Regions from separate parts of the Homo sapiens genome. Here region 1 is linked to region 2. Evidence: fine-mapped expression QTL. A gene starts in region 2. The other region holds a variant in brackets. All regions are shown on one strand. Distances are between the middles of the regions.

Region 1 (5,380 bases), 27 kb after region 2:
CACCACTTCCTCTCAAGTCCGTCCACCCTCTGTAGGTAACTAATCTCATTAGTTTCTGATTTGAAAGTATGGAACGCTTCGCAAATTTGCATGTCATTTTTGCAGAGGCGCCATGCTAATCTCTATATTGTTCCAACTTTAGCGTATATGATGCTAAAATTGAGCACCAGTGTGATCCTTTTAAGCAGAAATCAGATCATGTCACCGTTGCTCAAAGGCCTCCAGTTGCTTCCTGCAACCATCAGAATAAAACCTGAATCCCTTACTGCACTCCACTTACTTTAAGACCCTACATGATCTGGCTTCTGTTTCCTGCTTATTTCCTCTACTTTATTTTTATTTTTTAATTAATTGATTTTTTGAGACAGTCTTGCTCTGTCGCCCAGGCTGGAGTGCAGTGGTGCAATCTCAGCTCACTGCTACCTCTGCCTCCAGGGTTCAAGCAGTTCTCCTGCCTCAGCCTCCTGAGGCACCTGCCACCACTCCTGGCTAATTTTTGTATTTTTTTAGTAGAGACGGGGTTTCGCTATGTTGGCCAGGCTGGTCTCAAACTCCTGGCCTCAAGTGATCCACCCGCCTTGGCCTCCCAGAATGCTGGGATTTCAGGCATGAGCCATAGCACCCAACCTGTTTTATTTTTTGACACCATCCACCTGGAGATTTATTTCCTCTACTTTATGCCCTTGTTCACCTACTCCAGCCACACTTGCCTTCTTGCTGTTGCCCTTGTGGCCAGCACTGTCCTGCCTCAGGGCCTCTGCAGGTGTCCTTCCCTAATACTTGGTGCTGCTCTTCCCTTGCTTGTTCCCAGGACTAGTTACCTCTGCCTCTCTGGTAGACATTCACATCTTGCGAAAGGCCTTCCCCAAGTACATCCCCCACCATTTTCTAACTCTTTATTTGGCTCCGTTTTAATTCATGGCACTTATCATATGTGTATTGTCTCACGCATCCATGTGAAGAGACCACCAAACAGGATTTGTGTGAGCAACAAGGCTCTTTATTTCACCTGGGTGCAGGCGGGCTGAGTCCGAAAAAGGAGTCAGCAAAGGGTGGTGGGATTATCATTGGTTCTTACAGGTTTTGGGATAGGCGGTGGAGTTAAGAGCAATGTTTTGGGGGCAGGGGGTGGATCTCACAAAGTACATTCTCAACGGTGGGGAGAATTATAAAGAAACTTCTTTTTTTTTTTTTTTTTTTTTTTTTGAGATGGAGTCTTGCTCTGTCACCCAGGCTGGAGTGAGTGCAGTGGCACGATCTCAGCTTACTGCAAGCTCCGCCTCCTGGGTTCACGCCATTCTCCTGCCTCAGCCTCCCGAGTAGCTGGGACTACAGGTGCCCGCCACCATGCCTGGCAAATTTTTTTTGTATTTTTAGTAGAGACGGGATTTCATTGTGTTAGCCAGGATGGTCTCAATCTCCTGATCTTGTGATCCACCCATCTGGGCCTCCCACAGTGCTGGGATTACAGGCATGAGCCACCGGGCCCGGCCTAAAGAAACCTCTTAAGGATGGGGGAGATTATAAAAAACATTGATCAGTTAGGGTGGGGCAGAAACAAATCACAATGGTGGAATGTCATCAGTTAAGCTATTTTCACTTCTGTGGATCTTCAGTTGCTTCAGGCCATCTGGATGTATACGTGCAGGTCACTGGGGATATGATGGCTTAGCTTGTGCTCAGAGGCCTGACATATATAATAAATATATTACATATGTAATATGACATATATAATAAATATATTACATATGTAATATGACATATGAGGATGGCGATTAAAAATAACAAATATGCAAACAAATTTTTTTTTTTTTGAGATGGTGTCTTGCTCTGTTGTGCAGGCTGGAGTGCAGTGGCGCGATCTCAGCTCACTGCAACCTCCGCCTCCCAGGTTCAAGCAATTCTCCTCCCTCAGCCTCCCAAGAGTAGCTGGGACTACAAGGGCACACCATCACACCCGGCTAATTTTTGTATTTTTAGTAAAGGCAGGGTTTTACCATGTTAGCCAGGCTGGTCTGGAACTCCTGACCTCGTGATCCACCCGTCTTGGCCTGCAAAGTGCTGGGATTATAGGCGTGACCCACCACACCCGGCAGTAAGTACTGTTTCTATTTGCATTCCATAGATGAGAAAATAGAGAGCTAGAGGAGTGAAACACTTGCCTCAGGTTACACAACTGGGGAAGGGTTGCTGGAGATCTGTCCCTAGTTCCCTGGAATCCAAGCTCACACTGTAACCAGTTGTGTTATGCTGTAGCATGTCTTTGTAAATTGGGGATTTGTTGTGCTTGCCACACATTTTATCTTTAATTATAAAGATAAAATGAGTGGCCAGGAGTGGTGGCTCACAGCTGTAATCCCAGCACTTTGGGAGGCCGAGGTGGGTGGGTCACCTGAGGTCAGGAATTCAAGACCAGCCTGGCCAACATGGTGAAACCCCATCTCCACTAAACATACAAAAATTAGCCAGGCATGGTAGCATGAGCCTGTAATCCCAGCTACTCAGGAGGCTGAGGCAGAGAATGGCATGAACCTGGGAGGCAGAGGTTGCAGTGAGTAGAGATTGCGCCACCACACTCCAGCCTGGGGGACAAGAGCAAGACTCTATCTCAAAAGAAACAAAAAAACAAAAAAACAAGCTAATGGTTGAGTGTATTTTGTGTACTATAAAGCACTGTCCAAATGTGAGCATTATTAATATTCCTGGTATGACTATAGCTACCATTTAGTAAGTGCTCACAGTTTCCTAGCCTAAGATGTATATCATTCTGTCACTCAATCCTCAGAACAACCTTGTGAAAAGATGAAAAAAACAGAAAGTCAGGAAGATGAGGTCATTTGCCCATGGTGACATGCTGGTAAACCCAGCAATCTCACTGGAGAGCTGGAGGGGTTTACTTACTGCCTCCCTGTTCCAAGCTAGGGGACACACAGACATGCCCTTGACGACCCCTTGTTGCGTCTTCACTCTCAGGTAACATATTTCTGGAATTCCAAGAGGAGTTGGAGCAAGTCTATAAGGTCTACTGTGCCAGCTACGACCAGGCCTTGCTACTGGTGGACACGTACCGGAAGGAGCCGGAGCTGCAGCGGCACATCCAGGGCATCGTTGAGGCGGTGGT[G/A]TGAGTAGAACGGCCAGTGAGCACTCGCTCCTACCCCACTGACCCGGTTCAGGAGCAGCTATGGTCTCACCCCTTTTTCATGCCATTCGTGCTGCTTCACGAGTGTTGCTCTGTCAGAGCCTGTGTTAGTCAGGATAGGGCAGGCTGTGCCACAGAGACAAACAGCTCCCACATCTCAGTGGTTTCAAACAACAAAGGTTTATGTCTTCCTTATGCTCCACTGAAGGCTGACTTGGGGTTCTGCTCTTTGTCATCCTCACTTCGGCACCCAAACTCACAGCAGCCACTGTCTGGAATATTGCCAGTAACTGTGGCTTAAGTAAAAAGAGCTCTGGAGAGTCTAATGCTGGCAATTGAATGCTGTGGGCCAGAAATAATATTAATCACTTCTCGTAATTCATTGGCCAGGACTAATCATAGCTTCATTCAACAGCCAGGAGGCAGGGCATGCCATCCTACCACATGTCCAGGGTTGGAGAAGCGGAAACGTTTGGGAACAGTGCTCATGAGAAGCACAGGAAAGGGCAGTGAGATGGTGGGACCCATGTGTTCCCATAGTGATAAGAAGCAGGTGTGTATCACCTGAGGCTCCCTCTCTACCGGTGGCTGAAGTCCTGCCACATGGAAAAGGGAGAGTATCACCAGTCCGTGGTGGACTCATAGCTTAGAATTAGCACCAATGGGTAGAAGCCTCAGGTAGAAAAATGTAGAGAATATGTATTCGAATTTAAATTTTCGAATGGGTAACGTGATTATAAGATTAAAAAACTTTAAAACATCAAAATTTTTACAGTAAAAAATATCTGGCTGGCTGTATTTTTTACAGTAAAAAATATCTACAGTGCTGGGACAACAGGCGTGAGCCACCATGCCAGGCCTAAAGTCTCCTTTTCAAGAACCCGTGTCCTAGCCCCTCTCTGCTCCCAAAAAAACTGTATTCATTTTCCCTTTTTATTCATCCTTCATGGGTCTTACAAACAGGCTTCTGCAAGAGTCACAAAATATATTTCTACAGTTTACAGATATAAAGGGAAGCAAGGTGCCAGAGATGAGATAAAAGGGAGAAGTGGAGGCTGCGCACACTAGAGACAACAGACCCTGTGTAGCGTGCAGCTGCAGGACAGCCTTAGCTAATTGCTGCTATCAAGTGGCTTTTGCTAGATAACAAATCACCCCCAAAATGTAGTGGCTTGAAACAAACATTTATTTAGCTCATACTTCTGCATATTAGCAATTTAGGTGTACTCAGTAAATGTTCTCCTGGAATCATTAGCACCCTCAAATATCTGCAGTCACCTGCAGGTCAGCTTTGCTGATCCTGGCTGGGTTTTTTCATGTATCTGGGACACATGAGCTGCCTCACCTGTGGTCCTATGGTCTCTCCTCTTCCCGCCTGCTAGCTTATTCACATCATGGTCTCATGGTTCTAAGGGCTGTGGGGAGGGCTTGGCATCTAGAGGTCTTAGCTGGGAACTGGCACATTGTCATTCAAATGAAGTCCTAAGGCCAGCCCATACTCAAGGGGTGGGGAAATAAACTGCATTTCTTGGTAGCAGGAGCTTCATAGTGACAAAGGCTTGTAGAGATTGGGGGAGGAATAATAGCAGTGATGTTTTTGCAAACCATCTGCCTCAGCTGCCATGTAGAAATGAGGGTCTGTTGTGGCCAGAGCCTCTGCTTTTTTAAGAGACGCCAGAAACTTAGATGTAACATCTCTCAAGAGTTCAGTGCTGGCATCTAGCTCAGACATTTAATAAACACTGTGTGTGGGAGCCCTAGTTTGCTCAGAGGCTGCTGTTTATTACATCCTCTGCACTTTGGTCTTTCCTAGCCAGGCCAGCTGGGCTTTGCTCATGGGCTCTGTAGCCGAGCTCCATGGTGGTGGATGTGGCTTGGCCCCTGGCCATGAGAGAGCCATCTTATGTCTCAGGATCTAGTTTCCTTATGTGTAAGGTGGGAGGAATAACAGCCCCGCATGGGGCATTGATTCATTGCACACGAGTGACACTCAATGAATCTCACGTATTATAGTTATCTCGGCTAGGCAGGGATTCTATTTTCTCTGAGACCACACTGTAGTTCTCAATTTTATCAGTGCCATGCTCCCTTGTTATAACAAATATTACATACATTTACTATCCTAAGACATATCCTGAAATATATGTATAAATAAATATATCTCTTCTACCTATATATGTAACTGAAAAAAATCAGTATAATGGCTTCACTAAGAAAGGAGAAATAAAAGGAAAATAATTT
Region 2 (5,380 bases):
CCCTAATAAGCTTCTCTGCTTGAATGTTTACTTTTAGTGACAGGATATGCTCTCCAGGCAACTGATGTTATTATTATTATTATTATTATTTTTGGGACAGAGTCTCACTCTGTCGCCCAGGCTGGAGTGCAGTGGTGTAATCTTGGCTCACTGCAACCTCTGCCTCCAGTGCTCAAGCAATTCTTCTGTCTCAGTCTCCTGAGTAGCTGGGATTACAGGTGCCCACCACCATGCCCAGCTAATTTTTGTATTTTTAGTAGAGACGGGGTTTCAACATGTTGGCCAGGCTGGCCTCGAACTCCTGACCTCAAGTGATCTACCCTCCTTGGCCTCCCAAAGTGCCAAAGGGATTACAGGCGTGAACCACCGTGCCCCGCCAACTGATGTTATTTTTGAAATACTCAAATTGTTAGAAAAGTTCTTCCTTACATTTTAAATTGCAATGCATCTCCTTACAGCTTTCTGCATCCTGGTGGCCTCTAAGATCATACAGGTTAGGTCTAATCCATAGGGCTACTTTTTTGAAAAGTCCTCAGCTTCCCTTGCTTTTCTTTTTTCTTTCTTTTCTTTTTCGAGACGGAGTCTCGCTCTGTCACCAGGCTGGAGTTCAGTGGCGTGATCTCAGCTCACTGCAACCTCCGCCTCCAGGATTCAAGTGATTCTCCTGCCTCAGCCTCCCAAGCAGCTGGGATTACAGGTGTGCACCACCACGCCCAGCTAATTTTTCTATTTTTGGTAGAGATGGGATTTCACTATGTTGGCCAGGATGGTCTCGATCTCTTGACCTCGTGATCTGCCCCCCCCTCAGCTTCCCAAAGTCCTGGGATTACAGCCGTGAGCCACCGCGCCCGGCACCCTTGGTTTTTCTCTTCTGCAAGCTATACCACCCCTCTCCCCTTCAGTTGCCCTCATCTGTCACATTCAAGAGGAGACACTTTTCTGGTTTTCATGTTTTTCTGAGTGTAGAGTGGTGGTTAAGCAGCCTGAACCCTCAGATAGTCTGAATTCGAATACTGGCACTGTCACTTAGTAGTTGTGTGTCATGGGCAAGTTATTTTCACCTCTGTAGCTTAAGTTTCTCTCTCTTGAAAATGAGGATAATAATAATGATACCTATCTCTTAGAGAAATTGTGAATGAGATAATTGAGACAGTACAAGTAAAACATTTAGTATAGCGCCTGGCCCTTAGTAAGCAATATGACTACTACCAGCAGTAATAATAAATAATAAGCCCTAAATTAAGCCCTAAAAATGAAAATAAGAATAAAAGAAGTGGCAGAATGAGAAAAGCTAATCTAGTCCATTCCTGACGCTACAAACAAGGTTTGGTTGCCCCGATATGAAACTTTACATGCGTTTCATAGCAACTATCACTTTCAATGGTGGGTTTAGTGTCTTGCACAGGAGCCCAATAAGGCCAGGACCTTGTCTATCGTGTTAACTGTTGTGTTCTCTGTGCCCAGAACAGTGTCTTGCTCCCAGTAGAGTGAAAGAATGGACCAACACCGTCATGTCATGGAAGCGACTGGCCGACTTGGCTAAGGTTGTGCAGGGCTCCCAGGAGAGCTGGGGCAAGAACCAAGGGCTCCTCGGCAGCCAACACTAAGAATTAAATTGAGGCCCAGCCCTACAGTTTGGTGATTCGGGCAGGAGCAAAGGTATCCAGTAATACCGGGGTCAGCATTCCCACCGGGTGGCCTAAATGCCGGCTCCTGTTTTCTGGATGACGAGCCCGCGGAGAAGGTGGCTTAATGAGAGGCCGCGGGAGGGTGGGTGCCGGCACGTCGCTAAACTCCGCCTGCAATCCTTCGGGTTGGCTGCCAGCCAGGGCACGGTTCCGAGCCGGCCGGGGCTGACTCCGGGAGCAGCGAACAGAAAACAACCTGGCTCCAGAAAGACAATTAACAAAGGCTGGAGACCAGCCACCCCCTCGCGGCGCACGCACGCAGGCAGCTGCGTGGGCATAGCCGCGCCCGCCAGCGCCCTCGGTGGGCACAGCCACCCGGAGCGGCGCGGGTGCCGGGAGCTGGGCGACGCGCCCCTCCTGCCCCGGCTGCGCTGTTGCCCGGGCGGCCGACCTCCGTGCGTGAGCGCCGGCAGGCACCTTGCGCGCGCGGGTGAGTCCGCTGGGCGTTTGGGGCCTGGTCAAGCAGGATGGGGCTGGAGAGGGGTGCAGGAAACAGCTGCTGGGAGGATCAGAAAAGGGAGGTGGGACAGAAAGGCAGGATGCGACGACCTCCCGGGTCCCAACTTGCTTGGTAGCTAGCTTTGTGTCTTGAGCCTTATGAGAATGTAAGCCACCTGGTCCATATGGCCTACCCTAGTCGTTTTACAGGTGGGAAACTGAGGCCCAGGGAGGTTAGCCGGCCTGGAAAAACATTATTATTCTTTGTTCCTGTTTCTCTCTGCCTTCTTCCGTGCAGGATTTCAGACAGCTTTTAGAAAGAATGCATACATTATAACAACGGAAAAATACAAACAATGGTAAAGAATCCTTGCCAAGCAAAATATAATTATGAATAGACAGTCAAGGCCAGGAAAAAAGAGAACAGAAATCCGTGATCCATAGGTGAGGTGACTTGGCTAAGGTCCCTCAGAAAAGTCGTGCCAAAGCTGGGACTAGAAGTCAGAACGTCCGGCTTCTGAACGCCAGAAACTTACAGTGGGGAAGCAGACAGCCTGCCCAGGCACTGGTTCTTAACCTTCTGGGGGTCCCTGACCCCTTAGAGATCTGTGTCCACTCCCAGCAGAAGGGTTCACACAAAGCCTTGTGCACAGTTTGAGATTTGACATGAATTCCTGCTGTAAGGAATGCCTGCAGGCTGCTACTCAGGCAGGGTGGTTTCAGAGCACTTTCTTTGCTCCTTTGAAGGGAGGCAGCTGGTGGAGGAGTACCTGCTGTGCGTCCAGACAGCCAGCTGTGTGATCCAGGAAGCATAGTTTAACCTTTTCAAGGCCTAGTTTTATGTGTAGACGGGGGATGAGAGTGTCTGCTTCATCCTCCAGGTTATTGTCAGACTTAAGAATGAACATAAAGGCTAGTGCTTGACATAATATATGCTCAATAAAAGTGCTGACGATTATAGGGTGACTATAGTTTACAATAATCTATTGTATATTTCAAAATAGCTAGAAGAGAATAATTTGAATGGTTCTAGCATAAAGACAAATATTTAAAGTGATGGATATCCCAAGTACACTGATTTGATCTTTATAAATATATTAAAGTATCACAGGTACCCTGAAACTATGTACATCTATTATGTACACAGTTTAAAATTTAATTTAATTAATTAAAAAAAAAAGTGATGACACACAAAATCATCAAAGCTGTGGGAATTAGGAAAGGGTGATGACCTGGAAGAAATTGGGCTGTATCTGAAATAAAATACAATTTAAAAAATTATAAACATGAAAAAATAAAGTCAGCCCTATTATGACTTACAGACCACACCACATACCTTCGTGATGGTATCCTAAATAAGGGTGCAGCAAGGTACTACCCTCAATATTTGACTCCAAGTCAAAAGCTGAAAGTAGAAACTACCAGATACTGTAACAAGGAGTGTTTACTGGGCTTCACTTGCCTCTTTCAAATGGGGTCAACACCCCGTTTTTTTGTTGTTGTTTTTTCTTTGTTTGTTTGTTTTAGACGAAGTCTCGCTGTCTCCCAGGCTGGAGTGCAATGGCACAATCTTGGTTCACTGCAACCTCCGCCTCCCGGGTTCAAGCAATTCTCCTGCCTCAGCCTCCCAAGTAGCTGGGACTACAGGCACACGCCACTATGCCCGGTTAATTTTTTGTATTTTAGTAGAGATGGGGTTTCACCGTGTTGCCCAGGCTGATTGCAAACTCCTGAGCTCAGGCAATTGCCTACCTCGGCCTCCCAAAGTGCTGGGATTACAGGCGTGAGCCACTGTGCCTGGCCTATAGAGTTTGTTTTTAAATGAGAGGAAAGAGGACATAAACTGGGACCTGAGCAGCACCCACCCTTATTCAGCAATAGAGCCTCAGCTGAATTTCTGCCAGGGAATAGGAGTTGCTGGCAGTTGGCTCACATCCCTCTTGGATCAGCAGATTACTGTGGTAAACAGTGCCTTGGCTGATTCTGCCCTAGATCAAATAAATGGCTTTTTATTTAACTAATGAGGTAGGGAATGTGTTTTCATGTGCTGTAACAGAAGCAAAATGGCATTTGTAGAGCTTGACTGTCCAAAGCCTATTGCTTGTTTATTAATAGGCTGAAGAATTTGTTTATTTGTTTGTTTATTTAGAGACAGGGTCTCCTCTGTCACCCAGGCTGAGTGCAGTGATGCAGTCACAACTCACTGCAGCCTCAACCGCCCAGGTTCAAGCAATCCTCCTGCCTCAGCCTTCTGAGTAGCTGGGACTACAGGCATATGCCACCACACCTGGCTAATTTTTTACTTTTTGTAGACACGGGGTCTTGCTATATTGCCCACGCTGGTCATGAACTCCTGGATGCCAGTGATCCTCCCACCTCAGCCTCCCAAAGTGCTGGGATTACAGGCATGAGCCACTGTGCCCAGAGAATTTTATAATTCTAATAATTGTTATTATTTTCTTAATTCCCTAATACTGGAAGGCTCAAGAACTTTAAATCTATGGATCCAAACTTGTGATGACAGAGCCTGGGCAGACTCACTTATCTATAAAAATAACTGCTTTAAAAAAAAACTGTGTTGTCTCCTTCCTCTTTTGGAAGACCTTTTTAGGCCTTCCAAATAGAACTGGGGAAATATGGCTAAGGACAAACAGCTGCTGTTTGATTTGGGTTAAGACACATACCACCTGTCCTTTCCATGTATTTATAAAGGGGAGTTTTTCCTCCAGGAAAGAGAGAGAGAATGTGTATGTCTGTCTGCGTATGGGAGAGGGGATGTCTGTTGCTGTCTTTCCGCCTCACTTCCAATCATTTATTTATCAACACAGAGAAGTCCTTTTCTGTAAGCACAGTGACTTGGAAAATTCCTTCCCTTTTTGGCTCTGTGGCTCTATTTTGTTTCACAGTAGTTTCTAAAATATTGGGATGTTTTTTCTAATTTTGACTATAAACTGTTCTTTATATGTTTCTTTTCTTTTTCTTTTTTTTTTCTCTTGAGATGGAGTCTCGCTCTGTCGCCCAGGCTGGAGTGCAATGGCATGATCTCTGCTTACAATAACCTCCACCTCCTGGGTTCAAGTGATTCTCCTGCCTCAGCCTCCTGAGTAGCTGGGATTGTAGCTGGGATTACAGGCATGTGCCACCACTTCTGGCTAATTTTTGTATTTTTAGTAGAGACAGGGTTTCACCATGTTGGCCAGGCTGGTCTTGAACTCCTGAGCTCAGATGATCTGCCTGCCTTGGCCTCCCAAAGT

The links.
Region 1: its variant is fine-mapped to the expression of ARHGEF37 in whole blood (INTERVAL, PIP 0.97).

What each region holds. Positions count from the first base shown.
Region 1 is chr5:149,606,575-149,611,954 of GRCh38, forward strand. It overlaps ARHGEF37 (Rho guanine nucleotide exchange factor 37), which reads left to right. Exons shown (of 13, transcript NM_001001669.3): 4 at 2,974-3,121. It also overlaps the pseudogene RNU6-588P. Among named protein-coding and RNA genes, the nearest start is that of ARHGEF37, 28 kb to the left of the region's middle. RefSeq lists an enhancer at 4,752-5,046. The variant G/A (reference allele first, on the strand shown) is at 3,122.
Region 2 is chr5:149,579,507-149,584,886 of GRCh38, forward strand. ARHGEF37 (Rho guanine nucleotide exchange factor 37) reads left to right here and starts at 1,992. Exons shown (of 13, transcript NM_001001669.3): 1 at 1,992-2,118. RefSeq lists enhancers at 1,653-1,782, 4,000-4,169 and a silencer at 1,863-2,042.